2 linked regions of the Homo sapiens genome follow. The protein of the gene in region 1 binds, or shares a complex with, the protein of each later gene. Each region holds a gene or a part of one and is shown on either strand. Other genes may lie near its edges.

What was found.
Region 2: the proteins of CDKN1A (region 1) and CCND1 are in contact, whole or in part, in a crystal structure (PDB 6P8H), measured with the Homo sapiens proteins. Residues at the interface, in NP_000380.1 of Homo sapiens: Ser15, Lys16, Ala17, Cys18, Arg19, Arg20, Leu21, Phe22, Gly23, Pro24, Val25, Ser27, Gln29, Leu30, Asp33, Cys34, Asp35, Leu37, Met38, Cys41; in NP_444284.1 of Homo sapiens: Met56, Ile59, Thr62, Trp63, Glu66, Val67, Glu70, Glu92, Lys95, Lys96, Ser97, Arg98, Leu99, Gln100, Leu101, Ile126, Tyr127, Thr128, Asp129, Ser131, Arg133, Glu136, Gln139, Met140, Leu142, Leu143, Asn146, Lys147.

The regions. Positions count from the first base shown.
Region 1 is NC_000006.12:36,674,216-36,681,713, reverse strand, and holds the start of CDKN1A (cyclin-dependent kinase inhibitor 1), read right to left. Parts: upstream 3,001-7,498; 5' UTR 2,916-3,000; exon of another isoform or gene 2,775-2,915; intron 1,241-2,774; exon of another isoform or gene 855-1,240; intron 1-854. UniProt on the Homo sapiens protein: Plays an important role in controlling cell cycle progression and DNA damage-induced G2 arrest. Involved in p53/TP53 mediated inhibition of cellular proliferation in response to DNA damage.
Region 2 is NC_000011.10:69,650,900-69,655,002, reverse strand, and holds the end of CCND1 (G1/S-specific cyclin-D1), read right to left. Parts: intron 3,886-4,103; coding exon 3,721-3,885; 3' UTR 529-3,720; downstream 1-528. UniProt on the Homo sapiens protein: Regulatory component of the cyclin D1-CDK4 (DC) complex that phosphorylates and inhibits members of the retinoblastoma (RB) protein family including RB1 and regulates the cell-cycle during G(1)/S transition.

The sequences.
Region 1 (7,498 bases):
GGCTGAGGCAGGAGAATGGCGTGAACCCGGGAGGCGGAGCTTGCAGTGAGCCGAGATCACGCCACTGCACTCCAGCCTGGGTGACAGAGCGAGACCGCATCTCAAAAAAAAAAAAAAAAAAAAAAAAATCTGGGCATGGGGGCGGGGGGATCACGCCTGTGGTCCCGGTTACTTGGGAGGCTGAAACAGGAGGACTACTTGAGTCCAGGATGGTGCCATTGCACTCCAGCCTGGGTGACAGAGTGCAACTCTGTCGAAAGAAAAGAAAGAAAGAGAGAAAGAGAAAGAAAGAGAGAAAGAGAAAGGAAGAAAGAAAGAAAGAAAGAAAGAAAGAAAGAAAGAAAGAAAGAAAAGAAAGAAAAAGAAAGAAAGAAAGAAAAAGAAAGAAAGAAAGAAAGAAAGAAAGAAAGAAAGAAAGAAAGAAAGAAAGAAAAAAAGAAAGAAAGAAAAGCACCTAGGGAGTTTTTTCAAAATATAGATTGCTGAGGCCCTGCCTCCCGAGACCAACTTAATCCAGATTGAAGATTCAAGCAAGTGTTTGGCACAATTCCTCAGATGGGCACTCTTGGGTTGCCAGCCAAGCGGAGACACACTGGTATGTTTGAAATGGACATTCTGGGTCTCAATACATCATAGGCACAAGGAGGAGGCGCCCGCCTAGGGCTTCATCAAGGTGCTGGATATTCCCTGGCTCTCGGGAGTTCAAGACAGGACTAGGATCTAGGCAGGCACCCTCTCCTCTTCTACCACCCCTCCTTCTCTTATGGCTCTCATAGGCCTCTCCTCCCCCATCAAAATCTGCTCTCATGCTCATAATAACTTTCAGCCCAAAGAAAACTCAGAAACGCAAACCCTTGTTTTAGAAACAATTAAAAATAGCCTCCTTTATTGGCCTTCCTGCCTTAGACTTCAGCCATATTTTAATTTCCAGTAAGAGCTCAGTGAATACTGTTGAACCTAAGGAGTGCTCCTTTGAAGGGGTGGTAATGGCATAGGGGTTGATCTCGGATGAGCCCAGGAGTAGCCGCGGCGGTTCGCGCCGGCCAGCCCCACTCCGCGGGAAAGCCTGTGTGCTATTCCCGCCAGGGCCGGGAGGGGGCGCCGGCCTCCAGGAAATCACGCGCGGAGTGGGAGGTGCGTGGGCAGAGCCTCGGACCGCTGGAGGGAGTAGTGATGAGTCAGTTTCCTGCAAGGCGCTGCTCGCCCGCCAAAACTGCTTCCACTCCGGCTGCGCGTCACCCTGGGGTGGGGAGGGGGAGAATGGGAGGGGACCGGGGGGCCGCGAACACGTCACGCTGAGCCGGCCAGGCTTCCGAAACTCCCGCCGCTGTTGGGAAACCGCGCGCTCTTGTGCCGTCTCTGACACAGACACACACACACACACACACACACACACACACACACACGCCCGCGCAGACACGCACGCGCGCGCGCGCCGGGAGCCGGCCCCTCCACCTTATCTCCACGCCCAAAGCACGGGATGAGTCAGATCCCTGGAAAATAAAAATAGACGGGAGCAACGAAAACAAAACCGCTCGCAAGTCCTCCCAGAAACGCGACGTGGAGGGAGGCAAGGAGAGGGGAAGCTGCCTGGGCGCCCCAAGTTCCTAACCCAGCTCCAAGATGCTTTTCCTCACGAAGAGGGCGCAAGTGTCCCCCAGGGGTTTGGGACGGAGAGGACGCGCTGTGGTCCGCGCCAGGCGGCGGCGCCCCAGGGGGCGACTCGCCCCCCTGCTCCGCTCAGCCCTGTAGCTTTCGGAGAGGGAATCTGGGCTAGGTCGGGAAGCCCTGAGCCCCCGAGGCAGCTGATAGAGGCCCTGAGCAGCGTCGTGCCCCCCAGACCCCCCACCCCTCAAAGACATGAACCCTCCCCGCCTCCCATCCAGGCGTGGGCTCCGCTCCCGCCCCGGAGTCCAGCGCCCCGACCCGAGGACAGGCTGGGCCGCGATTCTCCCGGCCGCGGTGGGAAAGAGGTAGAGGAGACCCTTGCCCTTCCCCGACTGACAGGCTGGTTAGAGCCCGCCCAGAGCAGGGCCGTGACTCCCCGACCCCTACAGCGCGCCGCGGAGCGGGGACCCGACGCGGTGTCCCGGACCTCCAGTGCCCGGCTTCCTTGGGAACAAACTGTTCCAGCCAAATAGGTCACTGTGCCGATGGGAGGACGGAGACCGCGAAGGGGCAGGGGAGAGGGCTTCTGGAGTCCCGCTGTACCCCATCCCGGGCGGGGTTCTGACCTCATACAGTCCGTTCCCTGGGGTCTCCTTGTCACAGTGAGTCACCTCCTCGCTAGTCCTTAGGGGACGGGTCCTGGCACATTCCCAAGGGCCAGGAAACAGCCCGCGCTGACCTCAGCGCTCAGCCAGGTGGTGGACACAGTGGCGTAAAGGACCTGAACCTGGGACCTGGGCCAGGGCGGCGCAGATTGGATCCCAGAGCCACCCGGGACCGATCCTAGACGAACTTACTCCACTCCGCTTTCCTCGCCCTTCCTGGGCCCCTCCAGGGACACGGACTTCATCCCCACGCCGCGAGCAAACTGCGCCTGGGGCCTGGAGCCAACCGCAGCCAAAGGCGAGCTCCCAGAACGGTCCCGTCCACGCCCTCCCTCGCCCCAGCTGGGTTTCCAGGGGCGGGGAGCGTGACCAGGGATTCCTGTACTTGTAATCCCGCTCTCCGCCCCGGGGTCTCCGGCACATCCCGACTCTCGTCACCCGCGCACTTAGAGACACCGTGTGCGCAAGCCGAGCGCGCACCGACCCACGCCCGTCATTCACCTGCCGCAGAAACACCTGTGAACGCAGCACACACCCGCGAACACGCATCCTCGCGGACACGCAGGGACACACGCGGGCACGCTTGGCTCGGCTCTGGGCCGCCGGCCCGGGGTCCCCTGTTGTCTGCCGCCGCTCTCTCACCTCCTCTGAGTGCCTCGGTGCCTCGGCGAATCCGCGCCCAGCTCCGGCTCCACAAGGAACTGACTTCGGCAGCTGCTCACACCTCAGCTGGCGCAGCTCAGCGCGGCCCTGATATACAACCGCCCCGCCCGGGCCCGCCTCAAGGAGGCGGGACCCGCGCTCGGCCCACCGCGCCGCCCGGGACCGCCCTCCCCGGGGCCCAGGCTCCTGGCTGCCCAGCGCCGAGCCAGCTGAGCCTGGCCGAGTTCCAGCAGGCCAGCCGGTCCCGGAACCTCGCGTGCTGCAGGAGGGCACTTCCCTCCTCCCCCAGTCCCTCGCCTGCGTTGGTGCGCTGGACACATTTCCCCACGAAGTGAGCCACAAATCTGGCTTTTTTTACTTGGAGAATGAGTTGGCACTCTCCAGGAGGACACAGCACTGTTAGAATGAGCCCCCTTTCTGGCTCACCGCTGACCCACTCTGGCAGGCAAGGATTTACCCAATGCAGCTGAAAAGATCAGGAGGATGACATTAATACATAAAAATTCATAAATTATAAAAACGATGCACCTCTCTGCAATTTCCAGAAAAGCCCCACAATATCACCTCTATTCCCACTGATCCCTCACTAGGTCACCTCTCCCAGAAGCACCTGGAGCACCTAGACACCCCAACAAAGCATCTTGAGGCCAGAATGATTTTTCAGTCCCGTTTATTTCACAGATGAGGAAATTGAGGTCCACTGAACTTAAGTATACAAAGTTGTTGATTGTCACATGCTTCCGGGAAGGAGGGAATTGGAGAGACTACCAAAAAAGGGCAACCTGATCTCCAGGGAAACAGAAGAATTGGACATTGAACCAATCTCCCTACACCCTACACTCACCTGAACAGAAGAAATCCCTGTGGTTGCAGCAGCTTTGTTGGCCAGGAAGGGGAGGATTTGACGAGTGAGTTGTCTGTCTCCTGAATACTCCCCACATAGCCCGTATACACTGCTGGGGAAACTGGGGCTCAGAGAAGTCTGGTGACCTAACTCAGATCATGCAGCAAAGAAATGACTATAGTTGGAACACAGGACTTTTGCCTCCTGCCCGGGGCTCTCTGCTTGTCATCCTTTATTTCTGTGGCTCCAAAATGACAAAAATGCCAAATAACCCTCATTTGCAGATGGTTTATGGAGATGACATAAATAAAGGACAATTCTGGAAGTGTCTACTGGTTCTTCTGACAGACACAGAAATGAGTGATGTGTCTATCCGCTCCCATCTACCTCACACCCCTGACCTCCCCTGGACTTCACCTTTGCCTCCTTTCTGTGCCTGAAACATTTGCAGTTTTGCTTTTAAAAAATTGCAGAGGATGGATTGTTCATCTGAACAGAAATCCCACTAAAAAACAGAACCCAGGCTTGGAGCAGCTACAATTACTGACATCTCAGGCTGCTCAGAGTCTGGAAATCTCTGCCCAGACATGCCCAGTCTTCTTCCTCTAACGCAGCTGACCTCGGGGAGGACAGGCTTCTTTCTCCTCTGCTGTGGGGATGGGAGCCCAGGTAGGGGTGGGAGGACACAGTAGCAGACCCCCTTGGCCTGCCTCGCCCTGGAGTCAGGCCAGGATTGTGGCTAAACCCCAGAAAGGCCACGGCACAGCCTCAGGACCCCACTCTAAGCCCCACTGCTGTCTGCACCTTCGCTCCTATACATCCAAACCATCCAAAGGGCTGGTTGTCAAATGTCCAGCAGAGGACAGGCACCTTCTCCCACTGCCTTGAAGCCCCTCTGCTTTCAGGCATTTCAAATAGACTAGACATTGTCTGTCTGTTTACTTTGGGGAGAAAATTTTTTTTAATAAAGGCTTGTAATGAATTATTTAAATTTTTGTGGTACTGAGCTTCACAATGAAATAATTCTTTTTGTTGTTGTTTTTGGGAAAGAATTTTTTTTATAACTTCTAGCTCACCACCACCACGACATTCAATATTTCTTAAGTACCTACTAAGTGTCTAGTACTATTCAGTGCTTTAAAAAAAAAAGTTTGCAACCATGCACTTGAATGTGTACCCAGACACACTCTAAGGGAGGACTTCTGCCCTGAAAAAGGCAAGGGAGCAGGCTGTTAAAAGTCACACACAGAATCTGACTCCCAGCACACACTCACACAAGCACACATGCATCAGATCCCAGCCCTGTCGCAAGGATCTGCTGGCAGATCACATACCCTGTTCAGAGTAACAGGCTAAGGTTTACCTGGGGTCTTTAGAGGTCTCCTGTCTCCTACCATCCCCTTCCTCACCTGAAAACAGGCAGCCCAAGGACAAAATAGCCACCAGCCTCTTCTATGCCAGAGCTCAACATGTTGGGACATGTTCCTGACGGCCAGAAAGCCAATCAGAGCCACAGCCTGCTGCCCAAGCATGTTCCTGGGAAGCAGGCAGCATAGGGATGGAGGGAGGCTCAGCCTGGGGGACAAGAGTGCCCAGTCCAGCCCCCTCCCCAGAGTGCGGTGGAGCAGCATGGGGTAGGGGAATGGTGAAAGGTGGAAAGCCCAAGCCTGAAGAAGGAGGATGTGAGGAAGGCTCAGTGGTGGCTGCAGAAGCTGCCTAGGAAGGGAGAGGAAGTGCTGGGAACAATGTCACCATTTCTCAGAAAGAGACTGGGGAGTCCCAAATAGGGGCAGTCAGCTTTCAGAGGAATTCACCTTCACACAGGCTCCCAAGAAGTGAGACCCCAGAGAAGAGGCGGAACAAAGATAGAACATTATTGAGCAGAGGCAGCCCTGGCTTTTTGTTTTCATTTTGTTTTTTTGTTTTGTTTTGTTTTTTGAGACAAAGTCAGCAGTGGCACAATCTCAGCTCACTGCAGTCTCCGCCTCCCAGGTTCAAGCAATTCTGCCTCAGCCTCCCGAGTAGCTGGGATTACAGGCATGCACCACCATGCCCAGCTAATATTTGTATTTTTTTTTTTGCACAAAAAGTTGGATTTATTGTTTCTGACAAGTGGTTAGTAATTTTCAGTTTGCTCATGTTCCTAGCATCACAAATCTGAAGTACAATTTTGCTTCTCAATTAAAAATATATACTGGCCGGGCGTGGTGGCTTACGCCTGTAATCCCAGCACTTTGGGAGGCCGAGGCGGGCAGATCACAGGGTCAGGAGTTTTGAGACCAGCCTGGCCAATATGGTGAAACCCCGTCTCCATTAAAAATACAAAAATCAGCCGGGCATGGTGGTGGGCACCTGTAGTCCCAGGTATTCAGGTGGCTGAGGTGGGAGAATCGCTTGAACCTAGGAGGCGGAGGTTGCAGTGAGCTGAGATCATGCCACCTGCACTCCAGCCTGGGTGACAGAGTGAGACTCCGTCTCAAAAAAAAAATATATAAATCTTTGTGTAAAATGAAAAAAAAATCAAGGCATAAAAATTTCATTGTGTTCTACATTTTTAAATATAAATTGCCTCCTTTAAAATATTTTCATCCATTCATTCAAAAACCTTTTAACTTCAACTGTCCAATTTAAGATAGAGTGAAGACATTTTTGAGTATCTGAACTAAGCATTGTCTTGACTGAAACGAAGTAAGAACTCTATGAGAGTCCTTGTGGGCCTCCCGGTCATGCCTTTCCATAGATAGGGAACCTCATCTTTGTTGGTCATCACACCTGCTATGTCTAAATGTGCCCACTTAGGATGAGTCACGAATTCTTTCAGGAATGCCGCAGATGTACATGCTCCCGCAGATCTATATTTTCCAATGTTGTTAACATCAGCCAGCTGGCAATCTACAACCTGTCTTGTACAATGTTTGAAGAGAGGCATCCTCCAGACACGGTCCCCTGTTTCAATGCTGGCCTCGAAGAGCTTGTTCCAGAGCCAGGATGAATTGGTAAAGACCCCAGTGGCACCTGACCCCAAAGCTACATCTATGACACCTGTTAAGGTGGTGGCATTGAGGATGACCTTCGGGTTAAATGTGTGCACGTAACAGAGCGCATCAGCCAGTATGAGCCTCCCCTCAGCATCAGTGTTACCAACCTGGATGGTCTTCCTGTTCCTGGCTCTAACAACATCCCCCAGCTTGTTGGCCTTGCCGCTGGGCATGTTTTCACAGAGGGGCCAGACCTATAATATTAATGGGCAAACTGAGATTTGCAGCAGACACAATGGCTGAGCATATAGTTGTAGCTCCTCCCATGTCGGCCCTCATGAGGTCCATATTTGCAGAAGCCTTGATGGAGATACCACCACTGTCAAAGGTAATTCCTTTCCCAACAAACAAGGGGTGGTTTGTCTGCATTGGGGCTGCCTATGTAGTGAATTTCCAAGAAGACTGAGGGCTCGTCAGATCCTTTGGCCACACTGAGGAATGATCCCATTGCCTGTTCCTCAATCCAAGACCTGGGTCTGATATGAAACTCGGTTTACTACTAGCGCTTTTGAGATTCTTCTCAATAATTTCGGCAAATCTGGTTGGCATCATCTCGCTGGCTGGCGTCTCCATCATGCCAAGTTCTGCCCAGAAGCAAACAGGACTCCTTTCTGCCAGGCCTCCTGATCCCCAGTTCCATAGAGCTTCACCGACATAGCCATCTTCTTTTTTTGCTTTAG
Region 2 (4,103 bases), on another chromosome or scaffold:
AGAGGGTTAACGAATGCCGGCTTTATTTATTTTCCTATCTGCAAATAACCCGGGAAGACAAACTGGTGGGGCAAGGAAGAGGGGGAAGATGTTCCCCATCAATGGGCACCGCTCACGTCACCCAGGCCGGAGCTGTTGTCTCGCGTGGTTGGAGGTGGGCTCACCCAGCCAGGCAGCCTGCAAATTATTCTCTGGAGCCTCCCGGGGACAGGACACCGCCTCCCACCTCACACACCTGTGCTGAGGGCTTCCTCCCAGTTGGGAGGGGTGTGCCTGCTCCTGGCTGGATTCTGTCCCCACCCCCGGGGATGTGGCAGTGTCAGGAGACATTCTTGGTTGTCACGGCGGGTGGCGTGACTGTCATCCCGGGGATGGAGGTCAGGATGCTGCTGAACTTCCCACAGCGCACAGGACAGGCTGCGGCCTCCCACATCCGCCAAGCCTGCCACCCTGCCCTGGTTCTAGGGCACCAGGACACGCGTCCCTGGCTCACGGCCAGCCCAGGAAGCAAAGAGGCAGGCACCACGCTGGGGTTTTACCAGTTTTATTTCTAGACTTTCATGTTTGTCTTTTTGTCTTCTGCTGGAAACATGCCGGTTACATGTTGGTGCTGGGAAGCGCCGCGGTGCAACCAGAAATGCACAGACCCAGCCGCCCGCCGCCCAGACCCTCAGACTTGCGCGTCACAGGACAGACTCCGCTGTGCCCCGTGCACTTGCCACCAGCCTTTGGCCTCTCGATACACACAACATCCAGGACTTGTGCCCTTGCCCCATCACGACAGACAAAGCGTCCCTCAAGGCCCCCGCGTGGTTCAGACAGACGCCGCAGCCAGGATGGTTGAGGTAAGCGTGAGCCGTGTTCTGGAGGGGTGGGGCGGGGTGGGCCTGTGCCCGAGATGGCCTCCGAGCACAGGATGACCCTGCCAGGGCAGGGCCCCAACCACGTGGGCCCGCAGCGGGGTGCAAATTCTTTTGGTTCGGCAGCTTGCTAGGTGACCGGGGCACACAGCACTGTGAGCTGGCTTCATTGAGATTTGGAGTCTCTTTAAATTAGCATTATGGTGTAATTAACAAAACAATAACAAACAGAACACTAGTACATAACAGATTAAACATACCCAAAACTTGAACAAATTCCAGAAGCTATTCCAATCATCCCGAATGAGAGTCCTACAGGTACAACGCCGTGGTGGCACGTAAGACACACTTGTTATAATAATAATAATAATAATTATGCAACTTCCATAGCTACACGCAAAGAATAACACAGCTGTAAAAACTACTATGATGCTACGCCCCCGATCAGATGAAGTGCCCAGCATCACAGGCGCAGGGAAGAGAAGAGGGACACAGCCTGGTCTCTGGGGACACCGGCGCGGTTCTCACGCACGCGGCCTCGGGGCCGGCCCCCGCCAGCCTGTGTGGGATCGCGCCCGCGTGTCTGCCCGCCAAAGCAGGCAGAACCTGCCCGCTGGGTCCACCATGGCTAAGTGAAGCATGAGGTATTGTGAAACAGCAACCTTTTTGGAATAGAGCAGTAATCACATTAAGTCAAAATTGATCACATAAAAAAAAAAAAAACTACAAAAAAGGCATCTGTAATACAATGTTCTAAGAGAAAACTAAAACTAGTACATGGCAGTATATGACATTGTAAAACAAAAAACTGATCCTCCAATAGCAGCAAACAATGTGAAAGAGATACACAGAAGCGATGTGAATATTTCCAAACCGTGCCTGGAAGTCAACGGTAGCAGCGCAATAAGAAAATGGAGCTGCGGCCTGTCCCCGGTGTGGGCACCGCCCCTTCCCCTCGGGAGCCTCCTCCTCACACCTCCTCCCGCCTGTCCTCCCTCACACGTCAGCCTCCACACTCTTGCCACCTCCCTTCAACACTTCCTAAATAAAAATTACAAGAATTACATAGCCAAGATGTGCAAATTGTCTATTTTGTCACTAAGTTTTTTAAAGGAAGGGGCAGGGGATAAGAATTCATCGGAACCGAACTTAGGTTGAGTACCCTAATTTTCCTTGCACCCATGCCTGTCCAATCAGATGACTCTGGGAAACGCCAAACAGGCTGAATCAATGTCTTTGTGTGGTTTTTTTCTTCCAGATTGTTTTTTTCTCACCTATAAAAGGATCTATCTTTAAAAATAAACTGTATTAAATCTGTAACATCAAAGGCAGAAGGTTTGTGTGTGTGTGTGTGTGTGTGTGTATCTGTGTGTTTAAATCAAGGGGAGATTGCATTTATAAATCATACTGGCCTTATGAACATCCTCTGCAATAAATATACTTTTTAGCCTTAACTATAAATTATATATTTTAGTGTTTAAAAACCTTCCGGTGTGAAACATCTAAGATAACCCTTAAAAACCACCTGTTCTCTAGGTAAACCTCTGAGGTCCCTACTTTCAAACACCAGTTGGCACCAAAGGATTCCTAAACTTCAACTTCTTTAAAGAAAAGGAAAGGAACTTATCATCCTGGCAATGTGAGAATGCAAACCTTTTTCTTCTTGACTGGCACGCAGCCTCCCAAACACCCCACCTCCACTGCCACCACAGTGGCCCACACTTGCCTCAAAGTCCTGCTTGCAAACAAGTACATGGATATTCCCAAACCATTCCATTAGAAAACTGCCCTCCCTGCACACACAACAAAAACAGCGCTATTTCCTACACCTATTGGACTGAAAGTGCTTGGAAATGGAATGGTTTTAGAATATGAAGAAGAACACAAACCAAGTAGCTGTGGGTTGAACCTGGACGTGAGCTGGCTGCAGGGCCGTTGGGTAGAAAACCAGCATCTCATAAACAGGTCACTACAAAAATAGGAAGAGTATAAAAATAGAATATATTATGTCACTATTTCGTCTTCTCTTTATAGTAGCGTATCGTAGGAGTGGGACAGGTGGCCTTTCCCGACCCTGCTACGCTGGCTGGTGCCCGACAAACCTCCACTGGATGGTTTGTCACTGGATGGTTTGTTGGGGTGGTGGTCACAGGCGCAAAGGACATGCACACGGGCACGCTACGCTACTGTAACCAAGAGGTGACTTCAGCCATGAATAAGGTGAAGAGGTTACACATCTACCTACGGAATATAATAACATACAATGACTTATAAAGTGACTACATGCATATGAGCAAGCAAAGTACAGAGATGCCTAGAACCCCACTACAGCTGTGCTTTATCAGGAAAAGCACAAGAATATGTTTTTCTACCTAAAACCCTCTTCTACTTTAAAAATGGTTTGCTGAATTTTTCTATGTTTTTAAAATGTTTTTATGCTTTTTTTTAAACACGTAAAGGATGGAACCTAATCCTCTCCCGAGACGCCTCCTTTGTGTTAATGCCTATTCTTACAACAGAGAAACAAGTACATTAATATAAAAACGAGTTGATTATTGGGGTATAAAATCCTCTATCATCTGTAGCACAACCCTCCTCCCCCACCGCTCAGGGTTATGCAAATACTATTTTTTTTTTCTCTCTCTCTCTTTTAAAGACAGTTTTTGGGTAATCTTTTTCTTTTGCTTAAGTCAGAGATGGAAGGGGGAAAGAGCAAAGGAAAAAACAACCAACAACAAGGAGAATGAAGCTTTCCCTTCTGGTATCAAAATGCTCCGGAGAGGAGGGACTGTCAGGGGAGCACCTGGGGCCGGCTCCGCCCTCGCTGCGGGTGGCGGTGGCGCCCGCCTGCCTGGCGCCCTCAGATGTCCACGTCCCGCACGTCGGTGGGTGTGCAAGCCAGGTCCACCTCCTCCTCCTCCTCTTCCTCCTCCTCGGCGGCCTTGGGGTCCATGTTCTGCTGGGCCTGGCGCAGGCTTGACTCCAGCAGGGCTTCGATCTGCTCCTGGCAGGCCCGGAGGCAGTCCTGAGAGAGAGAGGGTGGGGAGAGGTGGGAAGAGGGGGTCCTTAGAAGGGGCCTGCAGCGAGGGCCCCTTCCCAGGTGCCATGACCCGGAAGCCTTTATAAGAGCAAGACTAAGCCAAAAACTGTCCCTCGGCCCATGCTGCCTCCTCTGAACCTGAGCGAGATGTGGGAGCTGCCATCACCTGTCAGGACACTCAGGACCAAATGCCTCCACCTCCC